Homo sapiens: one gene and its partners. The protein of the gene in region 3 interacts with the protein of the main gene of each other region in a biochemical or structural test. Each region holds a gene or a part of one and is shown on either strand. Other genes may lie near its edges.

The links.
Region 1: the proteins of TRPV4 (region 3) and SFI1 interact in a test that uses a peptide from one of them, tested with the Homo sapiens proteins (one study listed by BioGRID).
Region 2: the proteins of TRPV4 (region 3) and SLAMF6 interact in a test that uses a peptide from one of them, tested with the Homo sapiens proteins (one study listed by BioGRID).
Region 4: the proteins of TRPV4 (region 3) and TMOD1 interact in a test that uses a peptide from one of them, tested with the Homo sapiens proteins (one study listed by BioGRID).

Annotation. Positions count from the first base shown.
Region 1 is NC_000022.11:31,611,530-31,618,553, reverse strand, and holds part of SFI1 (protein SFI1 homolog), read right to left. Parts: intron 6,789-7,024; coding exon 6,714-6,788; intron 5,413-6,713; coding exon 5,338-5,412; intron 5,201-5,337; coding exon 5,024-5,200; intron 4,953-5,023; coding exon 4,699-4,952; intron 3,766-4,698; coding exon 3,694-3,765; intron 3,507-3,693; coding exon 3,275-3,506; intron 1,810-3,274; coding exon 1,677-1,809; intron 1,555-1,676; coding exon 1,476-1,554; intron 440-1,475; coding exon 328-439; intron 241-327; coding exon 136-240; 3' UTR 1-135. UniProt on the Homo sapiens protein: Plays a role in the dynamic structure of centrosome-associated contractile fibers via its interaction with CETN2.
Region 2 is NC_000001.11:160,520,254-160,527,855, reverse strand, and holds the start of SLAMF6 (SLAM family member 6 isoform 1 precursor), read left to right. Parts: upstream 1-4,600; 5' UTR 4,601-4,663; coding exon 4,664-4,712; intron 4,713-7,602. UniProt on the Homo sapiens protein: Self-ligand receptor of the signaling lymphocytic activation molecule (SLAM) family.
Region 3 is NC_000012.12:109,823,380-109,830,403, reverse strand, and holds part of TRPV4 (transient receptor potential cation channel subfamily V member 4), read left to right. Parts: intron 1-2,801; exon of another isoform or gene 2,802-3,594; intron 3,595-7,024. UniProt on the Homo sapiens protein: Non-selective calcium permeant cation channel involved in osmotic sensitivity and mechanosensitivity. Activation by exposure to hypotonicity within the physiological range exhibits an outward rectification.
Region 4 is NC_000009.12:97,560,658-97,567,681, forward strand, and holds part of TMOD1 (tropomodulin-1), read left to right. Parts: intron 1-2,074; coding exon 2,075-2,164; intron 2,165-3,380; coding exon 3,381-3,511; intron 3,512-5,190; coding exon 5,191-5,298; intron 5,299-7,024. UniProt on the Homo sapiens protein: Blocks the elongation and depolymerization of the actin filaments at the pointed end. The Tmod/TM complex contributes to the formation of the short actin protofilament, which in turn defines the geometry of the membrane skeleton.

The DNA of each region.
Region 1 (7,024 bases), on a different chromosome or scaffold from region 3:
ACTTCTGAACAGTAATTCATTTAATTGCAAAGCATTTTGAAATAAAAAAAATCAAACTTAAAACTGTGTTCTGTTCCTGGAGGTGGCCTGAGGCCTCCCCGACAGCCCAGCACCTGCGTTCCTGGTGCGAACACGCTAGCACAGGGCCTGCCGCAGGGCCTGGATGCGGGCAACGCAGGCGCCAATGGGCTGGCGCTGAGCCTGGAGCTCCTCTGCCAGCAGCTGGATCTGCATTTCCACCTGGGGCCATGGAGGGACAGGCAGGGCTGAGAGGGAGCACAGCCCGGGGCGTCCCCAGGGACACCTGGGGATGGCCTGGGGCCTCACCTGTTCCAGCTCTTTCTGCACCTGCTGCTCTACTTCCTGGTCCTCAGGCCCCGGCTCCTCTCTGTTCAGCTCCAGCCACCTGCGCAGGCTGCTCGCTTGCCGCCGACAGGACCTGAGGGGTGGAGATACCCACTGCCTGCCAGGCTGGGTCCTTGGCAGAGCCCCATCCGGCTCAGGGAGAGGCACCTCAGCTAATTCTGATGCGGGTATCGGGTGGAGAGAGGTGGTCTGGTAGGGCCCCTGACCTGAACTGCAGGCCCCTGCTTGGGAGCCAAACACTTGTTCTTTTTCCTCTCCCAGTCTCCTCCGCCCTCCCCAGCAGACAGCAACTCAGGTGGGCCTGGGCAAGAACACACTCCTTGTCTCTCTCCCCCTGTGCAGAGCCAAGGATGAGGCGCCAGTCTGTTGCCCTGGAAGCTCTGAGGTTGCTGCATGTTGAATGGTCCCCAGACCACTGAGTGCAGCTGAGTCACGGGCCTGTCTCCTCTGCATTTTTTTTTTTTTTTGAGATGGAGTGTTGCTGTGTTGCCCAGGCTGGAGTGCAATGGCGTGATCTCAGCTCACTGCAACCTCCGCCTCCCAGGTTGAAGCGATTCTTCTGCCTCAGCCTTCCAAGTAGTTGGGACTACATGCGTGCACCACCATGCCCGGCTAATTTTTGTATTTTTAGTAGAGATGGGGTTTCACCATATTGGCCAGGCTGGTCTTGAACTCCTAACCCCGTGATCTGCCTGGATCACAGCCTCTCAAAGTGCTGGGATGACAGGTGTGAGTCACTGCGCCTGGCCCTTCTCTGCACCTTTAATATCAGTGTTATAATTAGTCACTGGGGACAGCATGGCCTCATCGGGTTTTTAGAGTTTTGCTCAACTTTATCGTCCCCCCCATAGGAAGCAGAGCCTCTGTGCACAGGTGAGTCTGACGACTTGGGCCTTCCTAAGCAGCACTGAGCCGGGTAGAGAGCCATGGTGGAGATGGGGTCTTTCTGGACAGCACACACTGAGGGCTCCCCACACCCCTCCATGGCTAGACCGAGACCACCTACAGGACCCTGGCAGCTGGCTCGGGGGAAATGGAACTGCCTGCCCACCTCTCCAGGCAACACCTGCTCCTGTAGCCAGGGCTGCAGGGCGTTTCGCAGGGCTCACCAGAGGTTCTGCTTGGTGGTCTGGTAGTGCAGTAGTTGCTGCTGGATCTCCTCAAGTTCAGCCTCAAGGTCCAGGCTGCCTATGGCGACAGAAGTAAGCTTGTTTCAGACTATTTTCCCCTCGGGGACCAGGGTAAATAGCAAGTCCCAGGTCCGGGAGTGGCCTGAGTGCTTTCTGCCCTGACAGGCCCCAGGTACACACCTGCAGTTGAAAGTCCAGGCCCAGCCCTGGTGGCTGAGAAGTCCCCAGGAAGGAGTAGATGGGGGTCAGGGACACTGGCCAGGGATGAGGGGACCGGGGGCTTATCCCTAGGAGTAGCCCGCTGTGCTGACACCTGCAAAGGAAAGAAGGGTAGATGCTGAGCAAGGAAGCTAGGAGGAAGCCAGGGAGGGGGACACCAAGTCCTTGTCACTGCCTGCCCTGCAGGGGTGGGGGAAGACCAGGCTCCCAGCTGCAGGAGCTGGGCTTCCCAGGCACTGGCCGTGCCAGCTCAGTGTCTAGCCTGCCCCTGCACACAGGGCCTGGTACTGTAGGGGAAAGTCCCGCAAGCAACCAGGGAGCACCCCGTGTCACCACAGTCCGCCTCACGCCTCCACTGCCTGAGCAGCTGTTCCTAGCCTTGCCTTACCCAACCCTCCACCCCCACCTGCTCTAAGCTCATGACCTTGCTGAGCTTTGACATCAGTGAGAAGTGGTCAGTGAGAGGCCACTGCTCTACAGCCTTTTCCATGCCCTCCTCTCCTGGTGAGAGTGGACTTGCCCCTTCCATCACCGGACAGGGGTCAAAACCCTTTCAAACCCACATTCAAACCATTCCAGCCAGGGTAAGTGGCCCCACATGGCCTAACTCACCACAGGAACTGGTTCCTTCCTGTCCCCTCATCCCCTTTCAGGAACCAGCTGCTTTGGTGGCCTTAGAGCAGCTGTCACTTCCATTACTGAGCTCTCACACCCCCTGGCCATCCCCACCCAGGCTCCCTGCTTGGAGCCTCCTCCCCTCTCTCCTTCCCCTGTACTCTCCTCCTAGAGGCCGCAGTGGCTCTGGGGTTACCTTCGGCCTGTGCTGAAGATTCTTCTCAATCTCTGGCCCTGACCTCTTCCTTGAAGGTCAGACTCAACGTTTGCTTTCTCTCAAATTTGACATCAAGAGCCTGGTTCAAAACACTCTTGACACTTCACCCCAAACCAGTCCCCACCCCCAGTTCCTTCTTCCAGTCAAAGAACTCTGTTTCCCAAGTTATTCAAGCCAGCAGCCCACATCAGCCTGGATTCCTTCTTTCCCCTCATTCAGCAACTCCCTCAGAGCAGCATATCCTGCCTCATCTGCCTCCAAGAGAGTACCTGTCCCCTCTGTGGCAACCGCTGAGCCCAGGCCACCAGTACTACTTGCCTGGACCACGTGGTCATGGTGACCACAGCCTGCACAGAAACCTGACATGGTGCTCCCTGCCAAAACCCTTCCCCGACTTCCTACTCTTCTCAAATCCCAGGCTACTTCTCACTGTGGCCTGCAGGACCCTACGTGATCTGCAGCCACTTTACTGGCCTGCAGGCAGGGGTTTTTCTTTGCTTGTCTCTGACTAGAATATAAGCTTCAGGATGGCAGGGCCCTTGGCTGGCTGTTCACTGCTGTGGCCCTTGGACCTGGTGTGCAGTGGCTACCTATGCTTGTCAAATGGATGAGTGGCCTCCCTGTGCCAAGGTTTTCCAGAAACTAGTACAGCTGTGGCATGAGAAAGCACCAGAAGTCAGACCAGAGTGAGAGCCCCAGTGCCCAGGCCTGGTGGTGGAGGACGTACCCTGGCTGGTGCAGCCGCCCCGCAGGGCATGAAGGAGGAAAGAGGCAGCAGCAGCAGCTCCGGGCCTGTGCTTGCCGTCGGGGGCTGCTTCGGGCCAGGGGCGCTTGACAGGGCCCCAGGCAGGGGGCTGTGTGGGACCAGTGCTGTCGGGGCCTCTGCCAGGAAGGGCCGCGTCAGGGAGGGGGCTGCTGGCTGAGCCATGCCTAGGCCATGTTCCTGTGGCTTCTGAGGCCTGAGCACAGGGAAGGCAAGAGCCTGGTCAGGCCACAGGACCCTCCTCTGGGACCAAAGAACAAGAAGGAAAGGGGGCCACCCACCCCAGGGCTGCCAAAACACAGGCCCCACATGGAGGTGCCCGCTGCCTTTGGGGACCCCTGACCATCTCCCCCTGCCTGCCCACGGTGCTGCACCCCAGGGACCTCTGGCTCTGCGCAGGCTCCAACAGGAAGTGTGGGCGTCGCGGCTGCTTCCTCGCTGAGTGGGCAGTGTTGCTGGAAAGAAACATGGGGTCTGTTCCCCTGGGCTGACCAGGGGCTGCAGGGGGGTCTGAGATCTCTGTGGGATCTCCAATTTTATAGGGAGACTGAAAGTCAGGAAAGGCGAGGCCAAGGTCAGCAAGTAAGCTGGGGTGGGCCTGGGCCATAGAGCTCCCAGCAGTTCCGACAAAAGGTACCTGACGCCAGGGGACTGCTTCACCCACATTGTCTCTTTTGACCTGCAGAACAACCCTGGTGACGCTGGTGTACAGGTCGCCAGGGTCCATGTCACAGGGGAGCAGCCTCTGAGACGTTCAGGATCCCATCAAGGTCAGTCAAACAGTGAGGAGCACAGCAGGGACCGGGACCCAGGCCCCATGCACCCACCTGACATCTCCCCCGAGGCCCAAGGCTCTCGGGTAGTGCTGGTTGCTGTGGGAGCCACCAGCTTCATCAGCATGGGGCAGGGCAGGTTAGGGTTTGAGGAGACCATAGTAGGGGTGGGCAGAGGGACAGGTGCCAGCTCACACAAGAAAGAGGGGCTTCTGACAAAAAGCCAGTGTCTTGGCTGTGATGGAGCAGAAGAGAGGCCGGCAGGCACGGGTAGGAGCTGAGCTTGTTCCCTTTGTCAACTACGTGTATGACTCCGGAAAAGATCGTGTCAGCAGGACGGGAGAGAGGGTAGGAAGGTGTTGCAGAGGAGGGGACACCTATTTCCTGAGCTTTGGCAGGCAAAGGAGAGAGGGTTTGGAAATCCCACTCCATTCTCTCCCTCTTGCCGTGGGAGGGATGGGATCTGGCTGGAGAAGAGGGGGTTCCCAGCAGCTCAGCTGTGACAAGGCCGTGACCAGCCCGTCCCATCCCGTCAGGGCTGTTTTCCTCCCTGCTATGCCATCCAACCTTTTGCCCAGGGTGGAAGCGAGGACAAGGTGAGCACAGGCTACTCACAGCTCCAGGGCGTGGGGCTCCTCAGCAGCCAGGCGGCCCAGAGCTCCCAGAGGCCGAGAAGCCTGTGGCCTCTTGGTCTCAAGGGTGCCATCCCCAGCCCCAGCAGCAATGCGGTTGAGAAGGGGACCCTCAAACGTCACTTTCCTGCTGGGTGCGATGGCTGCCAGGGGCTGAGGCTTCCCGCCCCGGCCCAGCACTTTCTGTTTCCAGAGCGTGGCACAGCGGCGGACGGCACGATGGAGACTGTGAGCCGCCTACAACACAGCCTCTGGTCAGCTCATGCCACACCCTGCCTGCTCCCCACAGGAAGGGGCCCTGGGCCTACCTGGACCTGCTGCTGGGCCTGCAGCTGCTGCCGGGAGGCCTTCATGCTGGCTGCAAAGCGCAGGAGCCGCGTGGCACCCTCCTGGAGGAGCTGCCCCTGGTAGGCCTGGAGCGCCCACTGCAGCCGCGCCTTCTTTCTCCTCCTTTCCAGTACAAAGGCCAGCCACGTGGCCCACACCTCCAGGGAGGGCAGGAGGTGAGGCCCAGGTCTCCCTGCTTAGAGCTCCCCCACAGACCAGGTGCCCTCCCTCCACCCAAGGCAGGGCTAAGGCCTGAGGGAGAGGCAGGGATGGTAGGATGCAGAGCCCCAATTACCTTTGCCTGCAGCGAGAAGGCCCAGAACCACAGGGCCCGCACTGTCGCCCGCTGCTCCTGCCTCCTGGCTGCCAGCTAGGGCCAGAAAGACCAGATCATTTCCCTATAGCCCCTTCAAGGAGGCCGTGGTGATCACGGGGCCCTGCCCAGCTCGTCCCTCTTGGCTCCCTCTCTAGTCGAGGCTCCCACTTCCTCCACTAGGAAGGGCCAGCCTTGTGCCTGGCGGTGAGATGCTCAACACACGCTCCATCTGTGGCCTGAGGAATGACCTTCATGAAAGAAGGTGGCAAAGGGCTCCTGCAGGGGGATGCGTGGAGGCAGCGGCCTGAGGTCCGGGGAATGGTGAAAACAGGACAACAGAACGGGAAGAGGGAGCTGGGGACGTGTGGATGCTGCTCTGTGTGATCCCTCTTGGCTTTTTAAAAAGCAAGATCCCAGCAAAGCCTTAAAACACATTTCATGTTAATTTTTAAGATATTATGCTGATTTTTCTTTTTGAGATGGAATCTCACTCTCATCCAGGCTGAAGTGCAGTGGCATGATCACAGCTCACTGCAACCTTGACCTCCCGGGCTCAAGCAATCCTCCCGCCTCAGCCTCCCGAGTAGTTGGGACCACAGGTGTGCACTGCCTACACCCAGCTAATTTTTCTGTTTTGTTTTTGTAGAGATGGGGTCTCACTATGTTGCCCAGGCTGGTCTTGAACTTCTGGGCTCAAGTGATCCTCCTGCCTCGGCCTCCCAAAATCCTGGGATTATAGGCGTGAGCCATCATGCCCGGCCCACTGATTATATATATATATATATATATATATATATTTTTTTTTTTTTTTTTTTTTAGACAGAGTCTCGCTCTGTTGCCCGGGCTGGAGTGCAGTGGTGCTATCTCAGCTCACTGCAAGCTCTGCCTCCCAGGTTCACGCCATTCTCCTGCCTCAGCCTCCCGAGTAGCTGGGACTACAGGCGCCCACCACCACGCCTGGCTGATTTTTTTTGTATTTTTAGTAGAGACGGGGTTTCACCGTGTTAGCCAGGATGGTCTCGATCTCCTGACCTCATGATCCGCCTGCCTCGGCCTCCCAAAGTGCTGGGATTACAGGCGTGAGCCACTGCGCCCGGCCTCCACTGATGTATTTTTTAATACAACACTGTAGAGAGAGAAACTGGCCTTGAAGTAACTGTTCTTATGCAGACTGCAGACGGAAGGAAGCTGATGTGCCTGGAAATGACAGGAAGGTGGTAGAGGAGGTGGCCCTGGGGAGGGTGATAGTAAAAATACTGAACTAGAGGTGTAGGCTGAAGGTCATTCACTGCCCAGGCCTCACAGGCCAGAGGATGGAGAAGGAAGTGCAGAGGGGACATCTCCTGGGTTCCCACCTGTTGTCTCCACTGGCGGAAGCAGGTCCGGCTGAGTCTCTGTGCCAGCAGTTGGGTGCTCTGCCTGTGCAGGAGCTGGGGGAGAGCAAGTGCACAGAGAGTGGCGTCCTGACCCAGCCTAGACAGCCTGGGGTGGGTCCTGATCTAACCCAGCCTCTGCCCAGCTGAATGTCCTCCCATTGCTAGGAGTCCTGGATGGTGCCAGGGGTCTCCTGCATAGGCAGGGAGTGCCGCCTAGAGGACTCACTCTGTAGGTCCCCCAGCACTGATAAGCCACGGGTCAGCATGAACCGGGTTTTTCCGCTGAGCCG
Region 2 (7,602 bases), on a different chromosome or scaffold from region 3:
ATCTCATGGGCAAAGACACACATAGGCTCAGAATAAAGGGCTGGAGCAATATTTACCAAGCAAATGAAAAGAAAAAAAAAGCAGGGATTGCAATCCTAGTCTCTGATAAAACAGACTTTAAAACAACAAAGATAAAAAAGGACAAAGAAAAGCATCACATAATGGTAAAGGGATCAATGCAACAAAAAGAGCTAACTATCCTAAATAGATATGTGCCCAATACAAAGGACCCAGATTTATAAAGCAAGTTCTTAGAGACCTACAAAGAGACTTAGACTCCCACACAATAATAATGGGAGACTTTAACACCCCACTGTCAATATTAGACAGATCAATGAGACAGAAAATTAACAAGGATATCCAGGACTTGAACTCAGCTCTGGAACAAGAGGACCTAATAGACATCTACAGAACTCTCCACCCCAAATTGACAGAAGACACATTCTTCTCAGCACCACATCACATTTATTCTAAAACTGACCACATAATTAGAAGTAAAACACTCCTCAGCAAATGCAAAAGAATGGAAATCATAACAAACTGTCTCTCAGACCGCAGTACAATCAAATTAGAACTCAGGATTAAGAAACTCACTCAAAACCACAAAACTACATGGAAACTGAACAATCTGCCCTGAATGACTACTGGGTAAATAAAAAAATTAAGGCAGATATAAATAAGTTCTTTAAGGCCAATGAGAACAAAGACACAATGTACCAGAATCTCTGGGACACAGCCAAAGCAGTATGTAGTGGGAAACATAGCACTAAATGCTCACAAGGGAAAGCAAGAGAAATCTAAAATTCACATCTGACATCACACTTAAAAGAACTAGAGAAGCAAGAGCAAACAAATTCAAAAGCTAACAGAAGACAAGAAATAATTAAAATCAGAGCAGAACTGAAGGAGATAGAGACACTAAATACCCTTCAAAAATCAATGAATCCAAGAGCTGTTTTTTGCAAAGATCAACAAAATAGATAGCTAGTCAGACTAATGAAGAAAAGAGAAGAATCAAATAGACACAATAAAAAATGATAAAGGGGACATTGCCACTGATCCCACAGAAATACAATCTACCGTCAGAGAATACTACAAACACCTCTACACAAATACTAGAAAATCTAGAAGAAATGGATAAATTCCTGGACACATACACCCTCCCAAGATTAAACCAGAAGGAAATCAAATCCCTAAATAGACCAATAAAAAGTTCTGAATTTGAGGCAGTAATTAATAACCTACCAACCAAAAAAAGCCCAGGACTAGATGGATTCACAGCCGAATTCTACCAGAGATACAAAGAGGAGCTGGTGCCATTCCTTCTGAAACTATTCCAAACAATAAAAAAAGAGGGACTCCTCCCTAACTCATTTTATGAGGCCAGCATCATCCTGATACCAAAACCTGGCAGAGACACAACAAAAAAAGAAAATTTTAGGCCAATATCCCTGATGAACATTGATGTAAAAATCCTCAATAAAATACAGGCAAACTGAATCCAGCAGCATATCAAAAAGCTTATCCACCAGCCGGGCATGGTGGCTCGTGCCTGTAATCCCAGCACTTTGGGAGGCTGAGGTGGGTGGATCATGAGGTCAGGAGATCGAGACCATCCTGGCTAACACAGTGAAACTCTGTCTGTACTAAAAATACAGAAAAATTAGCTGGGCGTGGTAGTGGGCACCTGCAGTCCCAGCTACTCAGGAGGCTGAGGCAGGAGAATGGCATGAACCCAGGAGGCGGAACTTGCAGTGAGCCAAGATTGTTCCACTGCACTCTGGCCTGGGCGACAGAGCAAGACTCCACCTCAAAAAAAAAAAAAAAAAAAGCTTATCCACCACAATCAAGTTGGCTTCATCCCTGGTATGCAAGGTTGGTTCAACATATGCAAATCAATAAATGTAATTCATCACATAAACAGAACCAATGACAAAAACCACATGATTATCTCAATAGATGTAGAAAAGGCCTTTGATAAAATTCAACATCCCTTCATGTTAAAAACTCTTAATAAACTAGGTACTGATGGAACGTATCTCAAAATAATGAGAGCTATTTATGACAAACCCACAGCCATTATCATACTGAATGGGCAAAATCTGGAAGCATTCCCTTTGAAAACTAGCACAAGGATGCCCTCTCTCACCACTCCTATTCAACATAATATTGAAAGTTCTGACCAGGGCAATCAGGCAAGAGAAAGAAGTAAAGGGTATTCAGATAAGAAGAGAGGAAATCAAATAGTCTCTGTTTGCAGATGACATGATTGTATATTTAGAAAACTCCATTGTCTTAGCCCAAAATCTCCTTAAGCTGATAAGCAGCTTCAGCAGTCTCAGGATACAAAATCAATGTGCAAAAATCACAAGCATTCCTATACACCAAAAATAGACAAACAGAGAGCCAAGTCGTGAGTGAACTGCCATTCACAATTGCTACAAAGAGAATATAATACCTAGGAATACAACTTACAAGGGATGTGAAGGACCTCTTCAAGGAGAACTACAAACCACTGCTCAAGGAAATAAGAAAGTACACAAACAAATGGAAAACCATTCCATGCTCATAGATAGGAAGAATCAATATCATGAAAATGGCCATATTGCCCAAAGTAATTTATAGGTTCAATGCTATTTCCATCAAACTACTATTGACTTTCTTCACAGAATTAGAAAAAACTACTTTAAATTTCATACAGAACCAAAAACGAGCCCATATAGCCAAGACAATTGTAAGCCAAAAGAACAAAGCTGGAGGCAGCACGCTAACTGACTTCAAACTATACTACAAGGCTGCAGTAACCAAAACAGCATGGTACTGGTACCAAAACAGATATATAGACCAATGGAGCAGAACAGAGGCCTCAGAAATAACATCACACATCTACAACCATCTGATCTTTGACAAACCTAACAAAAACAAGCAATGGGGAAAGGATTCCCTATTTAATAAATGGTGTTGGGAAAACTGGCTAGCAATTATGCAGAAAACTGAAACTGGTTCCCTTCCTTATACCTTACACAAAAATTAACTCAAGATGGATTAAAGACTTAAATGTTAGACCTAAAACCACAAAAACCCCAGAAGAAAACCTAGGCAATACCATTCAGGACAAAGGCATGGGCAAAGACTTCAATACTAAAACATCAAAATCAATGGCAACAAAAGCCAAAATTGACAAATGGGACCTAATTAAACTAAAGAGCTTCTGCACAGCAAAAGAAACTATCATCAGAGTGAACAGGGAACCTACAGAATGGGAGAAAATTTTTGCAGTCTATCCATTTGACAAAAGGCTAATATCCAGAATCTACAAAGAACTCAAACAAATTTACAAGAAAAAAAAAAAAACCCCAACAAAAAGTGGGCAAAGGATATGAAGACACTTCTCAAAAGAAGACATTTATGCGGCCAAGAAACATATGAAAAAAGCTCATCATCACTGGTCATTAGAGAAATGCAAATCAAAACTACAATGAGATACCATCTCATGCCAGTTAGAATGGCAATCATTAAAAAATCAGGAAACAACAGATGCTGGAGAGGATGTAGAGAAATGGGAATGTTTTCACACTGTTGGTGGGAGTGTAAACTAGTTCAACCATTGTGGAATACAGTGTGGCGATTCCTCAAGGATCTAGAACTAGAAATACCATTTGACCCAGCAATCCCATTACTGGTTATATACCCAAAGGATTATAAATCATGCTGCTATAAAGACACATGCACACTTATGTTTATTGCAGCACTGTTCACAATAGCAAAGACTTGGAACCAACCCAAATGCCCATCAATGATACACTGGATAAAGAAAATGTGGCATATATATACCATGGAATACCATGCAGCCATAAAAAAGGATGAGTTCATGTCCTTTGCAGGGACATGGATGAAGCTGGAAACCATCATTCTCAGCAAACTAACACAAGAACAGAAAGCCAAACAACGCATGTTCTCACTCATAGGTGGGAACTGAACAATGAGAACACATGGACACAGGTAGGGGAACATCATACACTGGGGTATGTCACGGGGTGGGGGGCAAGGGGAGGGATAGCATTAGGAGAAATATCTAATGTAGATGACAAGTTAATAGGTGCAGCACACCAACATGGCATATGTATACATATGTAACAAACCTGCACATTGTGCACATGTACCCTAGAACTTAAAGTATAATTTTAAAAAATCAGTTTTCTTTTGGCTTTTTCTTAGCTTTATACTTAAATATTTTTTTCTAATGTAATTAGAGTGGAATTGTTTTTTGAATTTTATTTTTGGATTACTCATAGCTAGTATATACAATTGCAATTGAATTTTATATTTTGATTTTGTATCTTTTCACCTTGCTGAACTCATTTATTTGTTCTAGTAGATTTTAGGAAATTCCTTACAGACTTTTACATATAAGTTTATGAAAGATGCAATAAAGGACTTTATCTTCTTTTCCAAAAAAAAAAAAAATTTGTGCACTTAGCTCAGAAAAAAGTAAACAAAAAATTAACACAGTTACAAATTAGGATTTTTAGTGCAGGGGAAGAAGTTGTCACCACGCCTCTAAGAGGAAGGGGAAGTCTCAGAAGTATTTTCAGTTTATGACAGAAGGGCAAAAACATTGACTGCCTCAAGGTCTCAAGCACCAGTCTTCACCGCGGAAAGCATGTTGTGGCTGTTCCAATCGCTCCTGTTTGTCTTCTGCTTTGGCCCAGGTAAATGTCAATCCAGATCGGTGTAGTCACTGAGTGACTCCCTGGTTTTGTGCAGCTTGCTCAACCTAAATCGTCTGTATACAGTTGTCTGGCTCTCTGCCAAGGGATTGGGGCGGGAAAGGGGACGCTGGCAGTGTTACCTGATATACTACTACCTCCTCTCAACTTTGGATGCGATAAGCCTGAGATGGTTGTCGGTGAACAATTTCAATTGTGTCTGCATGTAAGAAAGTTATTTGCTGGGGCAGAGGAAATAAGCTTTTGAAGACAAGACTGTTTGTGGTTTATGACCAGCATCTTGTGTTATAAAGAGTACCAAGACCAAGAAAATGGGCCCTCATACCAATGTATCTACTATCGTACTGTGAACCTCAGGGAGGTTACTTATCCTTCCTGAACCTCACTATCCTCATCTAAATTATTAAAAACCTATTATTCAGTTGAGCCAAATTTTCTGGGCCCAACCAAACACACCAAAAATAACCCTCTCACCTTTTGCTCATTGCAAAAAAAAAGGTTTCCATCTCTCCCCTCCTTTAGTGCAAATTAGGGCTAGCTAGTCCAGCAATGCATTATATATGGCAGTGAGAAAAGAATGAACTGATCCAGCTGGCTTCTTGTTTCCTGCTGTCCATTATATGGAGAAGATGAAGATTCATATCACATTTGGGGAACTACAAGTGGTCCACGGGAGACAAAGTGTAGCATTCAGGCAGAGATAGTCCAGGAGACCAATGGAAATCTAGTCCAGAGCTAGCCCAGGGTAGCAGATAAAAGTAGGAAGCATTCACTGAGCACTTATTGTATTTCAAGTATTGTGCCAGGTGCTGTACACACGTTATGAGTCTCATGAGAATTCTATGAATTTATACTATTAATATCTCCATTTTAAAATGAAGAACTGAGGTGAACTTAATTTAAATAATTTGCCCAAATTTCATTAGCCAGCATGCGACAAGCTCTTGTAATAGTTATGAGAAAAAATAACAGTTCAACAAGTGTGGCAGCAGCATAAGAGAAAGAAGAGACTGAAGCAAGAGATCCCATCAATATGGAGTTAAGTAGAGTAATTGGTAATTGGAATGAGAAAGGAATAAATATTCATTGAGCACCTACTGAATGCTTGGCACTCTTCTAGTTTGCATGAATACATCATGAACAAAGCAAGCAAAAATTCCTGCCCTCATGGAGTTAACATTTTAGCAGGAGACAAACTGTAAAAAAAGATAAACAAGTAAAATAGTGTATTGGGTAGGAAGAAATAAATCAAGAAGGAAAGGGAGAGATGAAATATGGTAAAGACGGCAGTGAAATTTCAGACAGGATAGCCAAAGAAAGTGACAAAATTGGAAGGTGGAGAGCAGCCACAGGAGGAAGGTGAGTTCAATTTTGGACCTACTGATTTTAGGATGTCAGTGTGCTATACATGAGGAAGTTACGTGGAGGATCCTGGGAACTTAGGACTAGGGGTAGAGCTGAGGCTAGAGACTTAAAAATCAATGGCATAGAGATATGTTAAGCTGAGGAGAAAACTGGAATGAGAACAGAACTTTGGGAAATATATATAAAATGCAGAAAGAGAGAGAATTCTTTCCTTCATTCAAGAGCCACTTCCTGATCTAGGAGCAGAATCTTGAGTTTTTGCTTCATTTTTACCACCCTGCAAAATTATTTCCACCTCTAGAATAAAATATTCTGAATGTCCTTGTGTTAAAACTCCTCTTCTTCTCCCTATTTCCATGAATACTTCTTATAATGACCCTATGAAATATACAGTGCTCCAATCTCCACTTCACAGATGGGGAAAGAAGGCACAGAACACTAAAGTAACTTGCTCACTGCCCCACATTTATGGGGGAAATGGGTATAGAAAGAGAAACACATTTGAATGAGTTTACAGGAGGCAGATGCAGGTGTTCTGAGACCCAGGAGGAGAGAAGTGGCTGCTAGAATTGGAAATCAGGAAGCTTGGCTCCGGAGTCTGTGCTCATAGCCACTTCACTATGCTACTTAGCTTACACACAGTCATACATTCACACAAATGTGTACATAATTAGAAAATGTGAGGCCAGCAAAAAAAATAAGCAGGGCACCTTCATAGAGAAAAACACGGGGACCTGCTTTGGACGGAGTGATGAAGAAAGGACTTCCTGGAAAAGTAACATCTCATCTGATATTTAAAGGGTGTGAAAAGTTAAACAGGAAAAGTCAAATGAAGAAGATTTTAGGGCAGAGGGAATCATGTGTGAAAAGCCGTGATGCAGGAAAGAGCCTGGAGTGATTTAGGAAGGGAAAGAAGACCACTGTTGCAAAAATGTGGGGCAAATGAAATTAATCTTTGAAACAACCATGAAAAACAATGACTCATGCCAGCCTACATTCTTTGAAGTGGGTTGGGCACTATCCTGACTCCTTTTAGAAAATTTAGTGGAAAAGACAAACCATATTGAAAAATAATCCCATTTCCTTTAACTCAAGCCCTGGGTGGCAAAACTAACAGAACAAAACAATAATTGTAAATAAAATCAAGCATCATGACTTCCTAGAGAAAATAAATCTCGTTTGTTTCTTCATTTTGATTTTTATAGATGGAAAGTTGGAAATTTGTCAAACTTAAATGTGCATATAAATTACTTGGGGGAATCTTATTAAAATGCTGATTGGGGAATAGGGACTGAGATTCTGCATTTCTAAGAGGCTCCCAGGTGACACCAATGCTGCCTGTCCATGGACCACACTAAGCAGCAAGGTTCTAAATTCCAATGGACTTCAGTCATACTGGGATTGTAGGGAGGAAGAAATAGAAACTAACTTTGAGTGTGTTTGCAGGAAGCAGATATAGGTATTCTGAGGTCCAGGAGAGAGCAGTGGTTGGAAATGTAAGTAAAGC
Region 3 (7,024 bases):
GCACTTACTGTGTGCCAAGCACTGAGTCAAGCACCCTCAGCACATTTGGATACAAAACTATTTTTGTCTCTATTTTTCAGAGGGCAGAATGAGGTCTAGAGGGTGAAATCTCTTGCCTGGGTTCTCTCAGCTGAGAAGGGGCAGAGCTGGGACCTGAATCCCATTTGTGTGATTGCAAATCCATCCCTTCACCTGTAAGGTGGCCCGTCCCCATTTGTCTGGACCCTCATTGGGGTGCCTGGGGTCATGGGGGAGCTACTCTGCAGTCCAGAGATAGGAACCTGAGTTGGCCGGGTGCAGTGGCCCACACCTGTAATCCCAACACTCTGGGAGGCCAAGGCAGGTGGATCGGTCGAGCCCGTGAGTTTGAGACCAGCCTGGGCAACATGGTGAAACTCTGTCTCTAGAAAAAATACAAAAATTAGCCGAACGTGGTAGCACGCACCTGTAGTGCCAGCTACTTGAGAGGCTGAGGTGGGAGGATCGCTTAAGCCCAGGAGTGAGAGGTTGCAGTGAACTGCGATTGTGCCACTGCAGTCCAGAGCAAGAGATCCTGTCTCAAAACAAACAAAGAGCCTGAACTGCAGACAGGCCTGGGCTTAAACTGCATCCGCATGTTTAAGACAGGCCTGCTATTCCCCGCTGGAGGAGCTCAGGGAAGCCACCTGGCCTCTCTGGGCTTCCATTTCCTCCTGTGTCAAAGGGACTCTCATCCCACTTTGCAGGGATGACCCAAGGCACGTGGATGGGGCTCTGAAGCACAGCTCTTCTGCCTCAGCCCGTGTCAGCTCCCCTTGTCCCCAGGCCCATTCCAGGGCATGTTTTCTTCCAGCTTATCCCCCAGACATCCTCAGAGAGCCCCTCCATGCCAGGTGGGTGGGTGGAAGGTATTGGGGGCAAAGCTAGACTTGCATTTGGGCAAATAATGATATGTTTTCAGCAATGAAATATTTATGAGCATTGACTGAGTGCCAGGAGCTGTCAACTTTTTTTACTTTCCTGATTTAATGCTTAAAAACTAGGGCTGGAGCCCAGCTGCCCAGGTTCAAATCCCAGCTTCCAATAAGTTCCATTATTCCTTTGGCCTCAGTTTCCTCATCTGGACAATGGGGATAAGGTAATGCCTGCCTTGCTGGGAGGTTGTGGACAGTCTTCAGCACAACCTTGAGTGTTTAGTTTAAAACCAGCATCTATTGCCTGTTGTTCACTTTTTTTTTTATTTATTATTTTTAGAGACAGGGTCTCAGTCTGTTGCTCAGGCTGGAATGCAGTGGTGTGATCATAGCTCACAGCAGCCTCGAACTCCTGGGCTCAAGAGATCCTCCTACTTCAGCCTCCCAAGTAGTTGGGACACACCCAGCTTATTAAAAAAAAAGGTTTTTTTCAGACAGGGGTCTCACTATGTTGCCCAGGTTGGTCTGGAATTCCAGAGCTCAAGTAACCCTCCTGCCTTGGCCTCCCAAAGTGCTCAGATTACAGGTGTGAGGGCTGATGTTCATTTTGATGGTGTCACAGCTTCCCCACTGCCGGGGGTGGGCAGGGGCAGGAATGCTGAGCCCCATTTTACAGCTGAGGAAATCGAGACTCAGAGAGGAAGCAATTTACCCAGGGATGCCCAGCTGGCTCATGGCAGAGCTGGAGCTGGAAGCCAGATCTGAGTGACACTGGTGTCCTTGGGTCCACGAAAAGCCCAGTGGCCAGCTTAGCTTCTTGCGTGGAAAGCTACGCTAGGCTCACCCACCTTGGCGTCTGAGCCACCTTAGCTTACCTCCCAGCTCCGCCAGTTGCTGCTCTGTGACCTCAGAAAGTGGCTTAAGCTCTCTGTTCCTGGGCTTTGCTGAGGTCAGAGCTCTGCCAACTTGAGGAGGGATTTGGGTTATTCTGGCTGCTGCTCTTGTTCTGGCCTGGGCTCCTTCAACCTCGGGTGCCCTTGCAGCCCATGAGCTGGCACCCCAGTGGCCGGACAGGAATGAGGAAGGGACAGGGCCTCACTTTCAATGTGACTCTGACTTCCTTCCCACCCCTAGCCCCTTCCTGAGCATTGGTTTCCCCTTTCTGCCCCGAGCCCTGGCCACTGCCGGCTGTGTGACCCCAAGGAGGTTACATCACTTCTCTGAGCATGTTTCCTCATCGGTGAGGGAGGATCACACGAGACCACACCAGGCGCACAGGAAGCCCTTGCCGGTCTCCAGATGAGGTCAGGGCATTGGAAAGGCCACAGAAGGAGGCGGGGGCTCAGGGGACAGACAGGCGGGCCATTGACCAAACGGGAATATCCTTCTATTTCTTTGGTTAGTGAGTAACAGCAGCCCCTCTTGTCCACCCACCCTGCCCCTTGCACAAAGAGCTCCTCAGTCTCACCAGGCGCCCGTTTTCCCCTGAGGGTGGAGTGGCCTGGGTTCCACCCGGTTGACCGAGTGGGCTGGCCACCTTCTGGGACCATTCCCTGTGTGTGTGTTTGTGTACGTGTGTATGTGTGTGTATATTGATGTGCGTGTGTATGTGCGTATGTGTGTCTGTGTGTGTATGTGTATGTGTGTATATGTATGTCTATATGTGTATGTGTATATGTGTATATATGTGTATGTGTGTATATGTATGACTATATGTTTATGTGTATGTTTGTGTATATATGTGTGTATGTGTGTATATGTATGTCTGTGTGTATGTGTGTGCATATGTGTATGTATATACATGTGTATGTGTGTATGTGAATGTCTATGTGTGCATGTGTGTATGTGTGTGTATGTTTGCGTGTATATGTATGTATGTGTGTATATTGTGTGTATGTATGTGTATATGTGTGTAATGTGTATATGTATTTGTGTGTAGTGTGTGTGTGTGTGTGTGTTTATGGAGGGTGGGTTCCATGGGCTTTGGGCTGAGACCCCAGCAGGTGAGGGTGGGACAGGGGGCATGGGGTTGACTGACCCATGGGTCTGGCTCACTCCTGTCCCTGCTTGGCACACAGGAGGGGCTCAGGAATACCTGTAGATAGAGTGAAGGGATGAATGAAGGAAGGAATGAGTGACTGGACAAGCCAGCCAGGCAGGGCATCAGAAGGAAGCACCTGCTCAGATACAGGCTCTGGCTCTGAGACCAAGTGTGCTTGAGTGAGTGTCCTGGTCTTGTTGAGCCTCAATTTCTTCATCTATAAAATGGGCTCACGATAGTTGTCCTCATGAGAGGTGTTGGTCTTATAGGCCAGAAAACCCCACACATAGCAGGTGCTCCGTAAGCTGTCTGTTAAAAAATGGATGGGAGGAAGCTAATTAGTTAGCTGGGCAGAGGTTCGCTTTGGAGACCTGTCTGCCCTGGAGAGAATGACTAAGCCCGTCTTTCACTCCTTTCCTCTGTTCATTCATTCATTCATTCATTCATCCAGCAAATACATCTTGAGCAGCTGCTATGTGCCAGGACCTGTTCCAGGCATCTGGGCCTCAGCAGTTACCAGAAGGGAGTCCCTCCGCCCTAGAGCTTTTGTCCGAGTGACATCATTCCACACGCAGTGCTTTGAGGCCACTTTGTGAGACTCTGATACCCACAATGACAAGTAATCCAGCAGTGGGAACTGTGATGAGCTCCCTTTTACAGGTGAGGAAACTGAAGCTCGGAGAGGTCAAGTGATCCGTCTGGGGCCACGCAGTTACTAAATGGCAAAGTCAAGATTCAGACTCCAAGCCTGTCACCACTGTGCCATCTTGTCCTGCTGAGTTCCAAGGGATATGGCGTTGAGAAGGGGGGTCCTAGGGAGAGGGCATGGTAGCCCCCAAAGGGATGAATGAACTCAAATGGATTTAAAAGCAGATGGTTGGAAGTCTAGCCACATTCACTTCCTGTAGCGTTGTGGACTCAGTTAAATCTCATTCTTTCTGATCTTCAGTTTGTTCATCTGTGAAATGATAACAATAACACCGACCTCAAATGAGAGAGAAATGTGAAAGTGCTTAGCATATGATAGGTATTGGATAAATGTCAGCCCTTACCTCCTTTCCCCCGGGACTGACTTTATACATCTGGGAATGGAGACAATAATATTTAATGTCTATAGTTATTATTTGGATTAAAATAGATAGAAGGGGCCAGCCATGGTGGTTCACGCCTGTAATCACAACACTTTGGGAGGCCAAGGTGTGTGGATCACGTGAGCCCGGGCATTGGAGACTAACCTGGGCAGTAGAGTGAGACTCCATCTCTACAAAAAATAAATTTTAAAAGTAGGAATGGTGGTACATGCCTGTGGTCCCAGCTTCTGGGGAGGCTGAGGTGGGAGGATTGCTTGAGCCTGGGAGGTCGAGGCTGCAGTGAGCTATGATTGTGCCACTGCACTCCAGCCTGGGTGACAAAGCCATACCCTGTCTCAAAACAAAAAACAACCAAATGGGAGGTGCTGTGTGAAGTGTGCCATGGAGGGTAGGCATTACTGATGGTACATTGCAGGCATTAGCCTCAGTCATAATTCCAAGCAGTTAACCCCTGAGGCAGCAGCTTACTGTTGGCACAGACTGGTGTTGAGGTGGGCTGGGACAGAGGAAGGATCTCAAACTGGTTTTCTGCTGCCTTGGGCTCCCTTCCCCGACTCCTGCCCCATCCACTCATAACGGGCACCTGCCCTCTTCCCCCTCCTCTGATTTGGCAAACTCGGGACTTTTGCTCCTAGAAGTGGGGTAGAGGAACGTATGCATGGACGAGTGTCCTGTCCCTTCTGGTCCTTAGTCTCCCAGCTGGGAGGCAGCCCTTGTCCTGACAGCCTTCTAAAGGTGACAGAAGATGGAAATGAGGTGGCGAGGAAACCCTTTCCAAAGGTGAGGTCTCTGCAGTCACGAGCCCTGGTTTTGGAGCCGGGAAGTCTGGGTTCCAGTGCCTGCCCAGTTCTGACCTCCCTGGACCTCAATGTCATCATCCCCCACCTCCCACTGCAAACTGAGGGAATGTTAGCAAGAATGGCAAAGCAGCCATTGAACATCCTTATCTGTAAAATGGGGGTAATAATTGCTACGACCTGGGTGGGGTTAAGCTGTATTTGCTCCATAGTTATTTGGTATACAGTACATTCATGCTTTAAACTAAAAAATAAGTTCAAGTTCATTGAACACTTGGTGTTTGTTGGGCACTGCACTGAAGGCTTGAATTATCACATTTAATCCTCACAATAGCTCTTTGGGGTAGGAGCTGTTATTTTATTTTTTAATATTTTAAAAAATAAATAAATTTATTTATTTTTTGTAGAGATGGGATCTCACCATTTTGCCCAGGCTGGTCTCGAACTCCTGGGCTCAAGCGATCCTCCCACCTTGGCCTCCCAAAGTGTTGGGATTACAGGTGTGAGCCACTGCACCCAGCCTTATTTTTTAGTTTAAAGCATGAATGTGCTATACACCAAATAACTATGGAGCAAATACGGCTTAACCCCACCCAGGTCGTAGTAATTATTACTCCCATTTTACAGATAAGGAAACCAAGGCCCAGAGATGAGATGTGACTTGTGCAAGACCATACAGCCAGTGAGTGGCAGATGAGATGTAAAGCATTGATCAGGCAACGTTCTCAGACTATAGAATCCTCTCTGGAGTTCTCCGTGGCTGTGACCATCCTCTAGGAGAGGGGCTAGGCCAGAGAGAAGGCGGGCCTAAGGTTTTGTTTTGTTGAGATGGAGTCTCGCTCTTGTCGCCCCCGCTGGAGTGCAGTGGTGCTATCTCTGCTCACTGCAATCTCTGCCTCCTGGGTTCAAGAGATTCTCATGCCTCAGCCTCCCGAGTAGCTGGGATTACAGGTGCATGCTACCACACCCGGCTAATTTTTGTATTTTTGGTAGAGATGGGGTTTCACCATGTTGGCCAGTCTGGTCTTGAACTTCTGACCTCAAGTGATCCGCCCACCTCGGTCTCCCAAAGTGCTGGGATTACAGGCGTGAGCCACTGCGCCCGGCCGGACTAAGAATTTGATGCCTCCCTCCTCCTGGGCTGGAGCTGAGTAGCATGTTCTCAAGCAGGGCTGGCTGAGAGGGTGGAATCCTGGGGCTATGCTCTGATGGGAAGGAAGCGAGATAAGGGAAGAAGGACCTGGAGCCTCCTGGGGTAGTGACTTTGTATCCTTGAGCTCCTACTACGTGCCAGACCTTGTTTGAAACCCTTTATGTGGCTGGGCACGGTGGCCGACGCCTGTAATCCCAGCATTTTGAGAGGCCGAGGCGGTCGGATCACCTGAGGTCAGGAGTTCGAGACCAGCCTGGCCAACATGGTGAAACCCCGTCTCTACTAAAAATACAAAAATTAGCTGGCGCAGCGGTGGGCACCTGTAATCCCAGCTACTTGGGAGGCTGAGGCAGGAGGATTGCTTGAACCTGGGAGACGGAGGTTGCAGTGAGCCAAGATTGTGCCACTTATACTCTAGCCTGGGTGACAGAGCAAGATCCTGTCTCTCTCTGTCACACACACATGCGCACACACACACACACACACAAGAAAGAAAAAAAAGAAACCCTTTATGTGTGCTTAATCTCCATGACATTCCCATGTTGCAACAAGGAAACTGAGGTTCTGGGAGGGAAGTGACCTGCCTGAGGTCACTAAGCCTGGAAGGGTCATTTAGATGTAATTCACATACTCATAACTCAGTCTTTTAAAACGTACAATTCAGTTGGTTTCTTAGTGTATTCAGAGTTGTACAGACATCAGCACTATCTCATTCCAGAACATTTTCATCACCCCAAAAAAGGACTCTGTACCCATTAGCAGTCACCACTCCCCACTCCCAGCCCCTGGCAACAACTAATCTGCTTTCTGTCTCTGTGGATTTGCCTGTTCTGGGCATTTCATATAAATGGAATCCTGCAATATGTGGCCTTTTGTGTCTACAAGGTGCATGCTCTTAACCATTAAGCCACACCGCTTCTTGGTGGCTCCTACCCAGGGGCCGGGACCCTTGGAAATGACTTGGTCCCTGTGAAAGCTCAGAGGGGCATCTGTGTGTGCTGTCAGCCGGCCTCCCTCCAGCCAAGGGCTTGCAGAATGACCAAATGACT
Region 4 (7,024 bases), on a different chromosome or scaffold from region 3:
TTTTTTGTATTGTATATATATATATATAAAGTATTTATATATTGTATATATAAAAAATACAAAAATTACAGGATGACACTCCTGTAATCCCAGCTACTCGGGAGGCTGAGGCAGAGAATTCCTTAAATCTGGGAGGTGGAGTTTACTGTGAGCCGAGATCTCGCCACTGCACTCCAGCCTGGGCAACAGAGCGAGACTCCATCTCAAAAAAAAAAATTTGTTGTTTATCTAAAATTCCAAGTCAAGTGGGTGCAGAGAATCACCAGCAGAAGGGAGAGTACTAGCAAAAGCAGGAGCAGCTATGAGCAGGGGCTGTTTGTGTAGCTGGAGCAGAGAAGCTGTTGGGAGGGGGAGTGCAACAACACTGGTGAGGTGGGGCCAGCCCAGGGAAGGCCTGTGAAGCCAGGCTCTGGGTTTGGATTTGGCTGTACAAGCCACTGTCCTCCCATCTGGACAGCTGCAACAGCCTCACAGCTCTGCAGCCACATCCATCTCTCCCCTCTGTAGTGAGTTCTCAACACAATAATCAGAACTCAGGTCAGACCATCTCACTTCCTGCTCAAGCCTCTAATGGCTTCCCAGGCTGTTCCTAGGAAAAGACACCCGAACTCCTTACTCAGCCTAGAAGACCCTGTAGAATCTGACCTTGCCTAGGTGAATAAAATCTACTCCAGAGGGTTATTGGGCAGATCAAGGAGGGGAGTGTCAGGCAATGGTTCTCAACCTTGGCTGCTCATTGAAACCATCCAGGGAGCTTTAAAAATGCAGGTGCCTGAGCTCCACCCCCAGATATTTTGGGTTAATTGGTCTAGGGTGGGACTGGGCATCAGGAATTTCAACAGATCCCCAGGTGATTCCAGTGTGCAGCCAAATTGGGAATGATGGATACAAAGTGTCTTCCCTGGCCCAGAGCATGTGCTCAGTGAGAGGGGTGGTGTTGCCATGCGTCTGATTATTACCGCCACACATCCAGCTTCTATCCTGTTTCCCCCAGCAGTGATTGTCACAGCTGTGTCATCACTGGTGTCCTGGCCTTGGCCTCTTCCTACTCTCCACCTCCCAACATGCAGCACAGAGCAGCTGGAAAGGTCTTTCCTGAAATGCCAACCTGACCTTCCTCCCTCACTGGCCTGCCACTCTCTGAACCTCGAGGCTTTCCCACCTGCATTCCTCTGCCTGTAATGTTCTATAGCCCTTCTCTTAACTTGACCAACACTTACTCCTCCTTTGCATCCCAAGTTCCTCTTTTATGCTGTCTTAGGACTGAACTTTTTCCTCTACCACACTCAGCATACCCTGTGCTGGTTTTTCATTGTGTGGGAACTTGCTTGGCTCCTCTCTCCCCCAGCACACTTTCAGCTCCATGAGCGGAGACCCAGTCTTTCTTATTCTCCACTGTCCCCACCAGAGCCTAGCACACAGTGCTGGGGTGGGCCTCATTACATGTTGAACAAATGAATGGATGAAAGAATGGCTGAGCACGGGAGCAATAAGATCAGGTTGGCATTTCCAGAAAGAGCTTTCCAGCTGCTTTGTGCTGCATGCTGGGAGGTAGAGGGAAGGAAGAGGCCAAGACCAAGACACCCGTGATGACACAGCTGTGACAATACAGCCAAAGAATGATCAGGCCTCCATTAGGATGGAGATGATGGGATGGGAGGGGGACAGATCTCAGAGACACTGGGATGGTCAAATGGGCTTATGGGGAGAAGGTGCCACATTCCCTGATGTTTTACCCTGAGGGACAGGCAGGATGACAAGATGGAAAGAGAGCCTTCCAAAGAAAGAGGCTGTCACTGGAAAGAGCCATTCTGGTTTGGCCACGTTGAGCTGGATGTGCCAGCAGGACATCAGGGAATCAGAGGCCAGGGGCAGAGCAGCCTGGGCTGGGGCTGGGGATTTCAGAGTCACATCAATAGAGGTGAGAGTAAAAGTAAAATAAAATTTTGAAGTTTTCATGCAAGTGTTTCTTGCCATTTCTGTGAGCCAGAGTTCCCGGGGTTTGGAGTGTGGGTCCCTAGGAGGCTCTTCTGTCTGCAGAGGCACATCATGAGCCCTTCCCTTGTCCCTGCAGCGATCCTGGGCATGCACACGCTCATGAGTAACCAGCAGTACTACCAGGCCCTGAGCAGCAGCTCCATCATGAACAAGGAGGGGCTCAACAGTGAGTATGCGCCCGCCCCCAGGAGGGACCTCATGCTTCTTGCTTCCTCCACTCACTGATGTTCTCTGGCTCATTGCAGAAGTTTTAACATGTTATATAGCCAAATCTGTTCATCCTTTCCTTTGAGTCTCCTGGGATTTGTGTCTTGTTTACAAAGGCCTTCTCTATCCCAGTATTATAGAAATGTTCTCCTATATTTTCTTCTAAAAGTTTTAGAGATTTACTTTTTATATTCAACTTTTTCTTTTTTTAGACAGGGTCTTGCTCTGTCAGCCAGGCTGGAGTGCATTGGCACAATCTTGACACACTGCAGCCTGGACCTCCTGGGCTTAAGCGATCCTCCCACCTCTGCCTCCTGAGTAGCTGAGGCTACAGGTGTATGCCAGCATGCCTGGCTAATTTTGTTTATTTTGTATGGAGATGAGGTCACACCATTGCCCAGACTGGTCTCGAACTCCTGGACTCAAGCAATCCTCCTGCCTCAGCCTCCCAAAGTGCTGGGATTACAGGCATGAGCCACCACACCTGGCCTTATATTCAACTTCTTAATCTACCTGGAGTTCATGTTTGTGTGTGCTGTGGGATGAGACCAAACTTTCATTTTTTCGAATTAATATCCAGTGGTCCCAACACCATTCCTTGCAAGATTTATCCTTTCCCCACTAGTTTGGGGCCTGCCTTTATCATCCACATGGATCTGTTTCTAGGTGCCTCCTCTGTTTCATGAGCCCTTTTGTCCTTTCCTGTGCCAATATTGCATTGCCTTAATTACTCCACTGCATTGTTCCAAAGCTGGCATTTTGGCCCCAAACAGAAATGAGGCTGCCAAAAAAAATAATTATTCCTCCCTCTGGAAGATTGATGCATTTCTTTCCCATCCGGGCTTCATCTTAGCCTCCCAAGAGTCCACTGAGGTCATGAGCCCCGGGAAAATGACTAGCCCTGCCTTACAGATGTAGACCCAAGGTTCAGAGAGTTTAAGTAATTCACCCAGTTCTTGCAGGACGTCAAAGGCAGAGTCCAAGTAGAACCCCAGCCTCCTGGCTCCCTTGCGGGGCTTCTTCTGAGTGGTGCCCCCTACCCCCACCCAGCCCCTGTGATGTGCAGCCCTCACGTGCCCCAACCCTGCACATGCTCCCTTCCACAGTATCTTTGTGTTGGCAGAAAGTGAGCCCCTTGTTTCTGTGAGCCACCTCCCTTTCATCGGTCACTCTAGGCGTGATTAAACCCACACAATACAAGCCTGTGCCCGACGAAGAACCAAATTCAACAGACGTAGAGGAAACGCTGGAACGGATAAAGAACAACGACCCAAAACTTGAAGAAGTTAACCTCAATAATATCCGGGTAAGGTCCATTTATTTCACTTTACCTGTGTGTGGCTGGGGGAGGGGGAACCATGTCACCCAAATGCAAACGGTCCAGGGTTGGTTGTGCAGAGTAAACAGGGTCCTGTTTGGATTCTGGGTGTTTCTGCATTGGGAATAGGGACAAAACCTTTGCAAATGGGAGCCTTTAAGAGGGGTGGGCAGTGTAAACAAGTGCATCTGGCAGTCCTGGTTTCTTTCTGAGGATGATATCAGGCCCAGATGTTTAGCACGGGCCAACCCAGCTTTGATCTGGAAACCTGCCACGTTATTCAAAACACTGAGAGATTCTCCGAGATAAAATCATGAGTCAGACACACGCTGCTGCATGGGATCTCAAGGCTGGAAAAGTCCGGTGCCCACTAGGCTCGGGGGTAACACAGGCCCTGGGCAGGCCCCTCCCCTGTGCCATCGCTGCTGCTATATCACGTTCATATTCAGCCTTGTTTTACAGCCACAGAAGGGAGCTGTTGGCCAAAATGTCCAAAGCGATATCCCAAGCTGTCTGCCCTTTTCTCTGTGCACATTTCCTTATGTGATCCCGGGGCAGGGGAGGGACAGGTGGACAGGCAGTCTCACCCTGAACAGGCCGCCGCAGGAAGAATTCAGAGACAAATGCAGCTTTCTACCCACCTGCTGAGCCCAGAGACCAGTGGATTAGTTCTGGGAGGGGGGTGGGGGTAAGACTAGAAGCCAGCCCCCCATGCCCCTGCTCCACTTTCTTTCCTTCTCCACTTTATTTTAAGCAGCTGCCAGCCCCACGGCACCATCAGATTGGAAACCTGCACCCTAGTGTTCACCCCCACCTGGCCTCCCCATGCTCTGCTCCCATGGGAGCTAAAGTGACGCTCTGAGAGATTGGTAAAAACACAGCCATGTTTTCTTTCATGTGCCCAGTAGGAGACATTGGCACAATTCAGAATGCTGCCCACTGGCAGTGAATGCTGCCTCAGGGCCACATGAGGGATGGAATCTCCCTGTGAGGCCCCAGCCTCCTCTGGGCCTCAGTTTCTCCTCTGCACTGTGAGCCTGTTGGACCAGATCAGTGGTTTTCACCTGAGAAGATTAAAAAATATATACCAACGCCCAGGCCTGACCCTAGAGATTCTGATTCTATTGTTCTGGGCCGGCCCAAGCATCACCATTTTGTAAAAGTTCCCCAGGAGTCTCTGATGTGCCGCTGGAGCAGAGACCCCCTGGGGTAGATGTCTCTTAAAGAGTATCATATGCAACCCCCTTACCTGTTTTCCAGAAACAGGGCCAGAGAGGGCAGGAGGCTTCCACAGAGACACCTAGCAAGTCAGGAACATTGCCGATCATTGGGACCAAGGCCAGGTTCCAGCCCCTCTCACACCCCTAGTCCTAGCTCTTTGCACAATACTACACGCCTTAATTTTTGCCTCTTCTCTGGCCCCCAAGTGCACAAAGAAAGAGGTTACAGGTCTTATCTGAAATTTTCAGGGAGGATTTTCTAAATCTGTTTACCAGAAAGTTCTCCCCAGATTTCAGTCGTCCGGGACAAAGCCTAAACCTTTTGCCCATTCAGCTTTTTGGCCAGAGACTTGCCAGGAATCAGAGAGTAGCCAGGCTAATCCACCTGCCTCAGCCTGTCCCAGAGGAGGCTTCTGGTCACTCTCTCTGTTGCCTTTCTTTGTGCAGAATATCCCCATCCCCACCCTCAAGGCATATGCAGAAGCCCTGAAAGAAAACTCATATGTGAAGAAGTTCAGCATCGTGGGGACACGGAGTAATGACCCCGTGGCGTATGTATGTACCTTTCTGTTCTGTTGCATTGTGGCTGGGGGCCTTGAAACAGAAGGGTTGAAATATGTGGCCTCAGGACTGGTTGTATCCCACTAACAAAGAGCTCTATGTGGTACAGTGGAAGGCATTGGACCAGGAGCCATGAGGGGTGTAGAGGGAACAGCCATCACCTGGCACCACCTACACGTCATCCTGGCCAATCCTCACACCCACTTCTGGTCTCAGATGTGCAGTTCTCCCCACTTTGCACTTAAAAAATCTAGGGTTCGGAGAGGTCAGGCAACTTGTTTTGTCCAGTCACACAGCAAGTGAGAGGTGGACCTGCAAGTCCAGTGCAGTCACGTGACCCCTAAATCTTCACTCGGCACATCATATTAGAACAAGAGCCTGCCCTTCCCTGTTCCTCAGTTTTTCCATCTCTAAAATCAATGGTTTTGGTTGGGCGCAGTGGCTCACACCTGCAATTCCAGCACTTTGGGAGGTCAAGACGGGTGGATCACTTGAGGTCAGAAGTTCGAGACCAGCCTGGCCAACATGGTGAAACCCCGTCTCTACTAAAAGTATAAAAATTACCTGGGCTTGGTGGTGCATGCCTGTAATCCCAGCTACTCGGGAGGCTGAAGCAGGAGAAGCACTTGAGCCCAGGAGGCGGAGGTTGTAGTGAGCCGAGATTGCACCACTATACTCCAGCTTGGGCGACAGAGCGAGGCTCCATCACAAAATAAATAAATAAATAAATAAAAATTTAAAAAAATAAAAATGATGGTTTCATCAGCAGGTCCCAATGACCAATTTTATTTTATAAGTCTCAAAAGATATTTCTGATCAAATTAAATTGTACTTACTCTGAAGTAGCCATCAACTCTTCTTTTTAAACATCCAGCACATATGTATTGAGAGTCTCTCTGTGCCCAACGCTGAATTAGGTTCTGGGAATACAATTGTGACCAGTCTCAGCTTCCACTTTCATAAAGATTCTGGTCCATTTGGCCAAGCAGACAACTAAAGGGTAACAGTACAGTGCAATTACTGCAAAGCTAGATTCCTGCAAGAAGGGCAGAAGCTAGTTTATCAGGGCTAGTAATTAACCATTTAGTAGCAATCGATTTTTTTCTGATTCTTAAAATAGGTAAGACAGTGTTCTTTCATATTTTTGAAATAATAGAAATAGCTCACAGTCTCTCATTGCTGTCAGTGGGGAACCTCTGGATTGATGACCTCTGACCTCAGATCTCCATGGTTCCTTGCCCATAGGAACACAGCTGGCAAAGCCACATGCCCTGTATGCTACTATGTCATGGGTCAGAAACCAAGCACATCCATTCTGGCCCTCAGCTCAGGTCCACAAATGTTTTTTGGGCATGGACTCTGCCAGACCAACAGCTGATATCAGCCTATGCACACCAGTATGCCCGTGTCAAACACTGAGATGCTTCTGGGCCAGTTGGTAAATCAGGCTGCCAGAGCTCTGTCAGGGCCCCCACCGCCTGCCCTAGCTTTTCTCCTGGCCCCGGTTCCTCCACTGGGACCCAGCATACAAGGAGTTAACACCTGGCAAGACAGGGCCTCCAGGACCTGCTCAGCCACCAGCATGTCCAGTTGGATCAGCCTAGCAGGTTGCCTACTGGTTGTTATTTTGATTTTTTTTATTAGATTTGATTAAGCCAGGCCAGGCCTTTCCTGGGAGCAGGAAGGTTCTGGTGGAAGACACAGAGAGGACTCTGGCTGG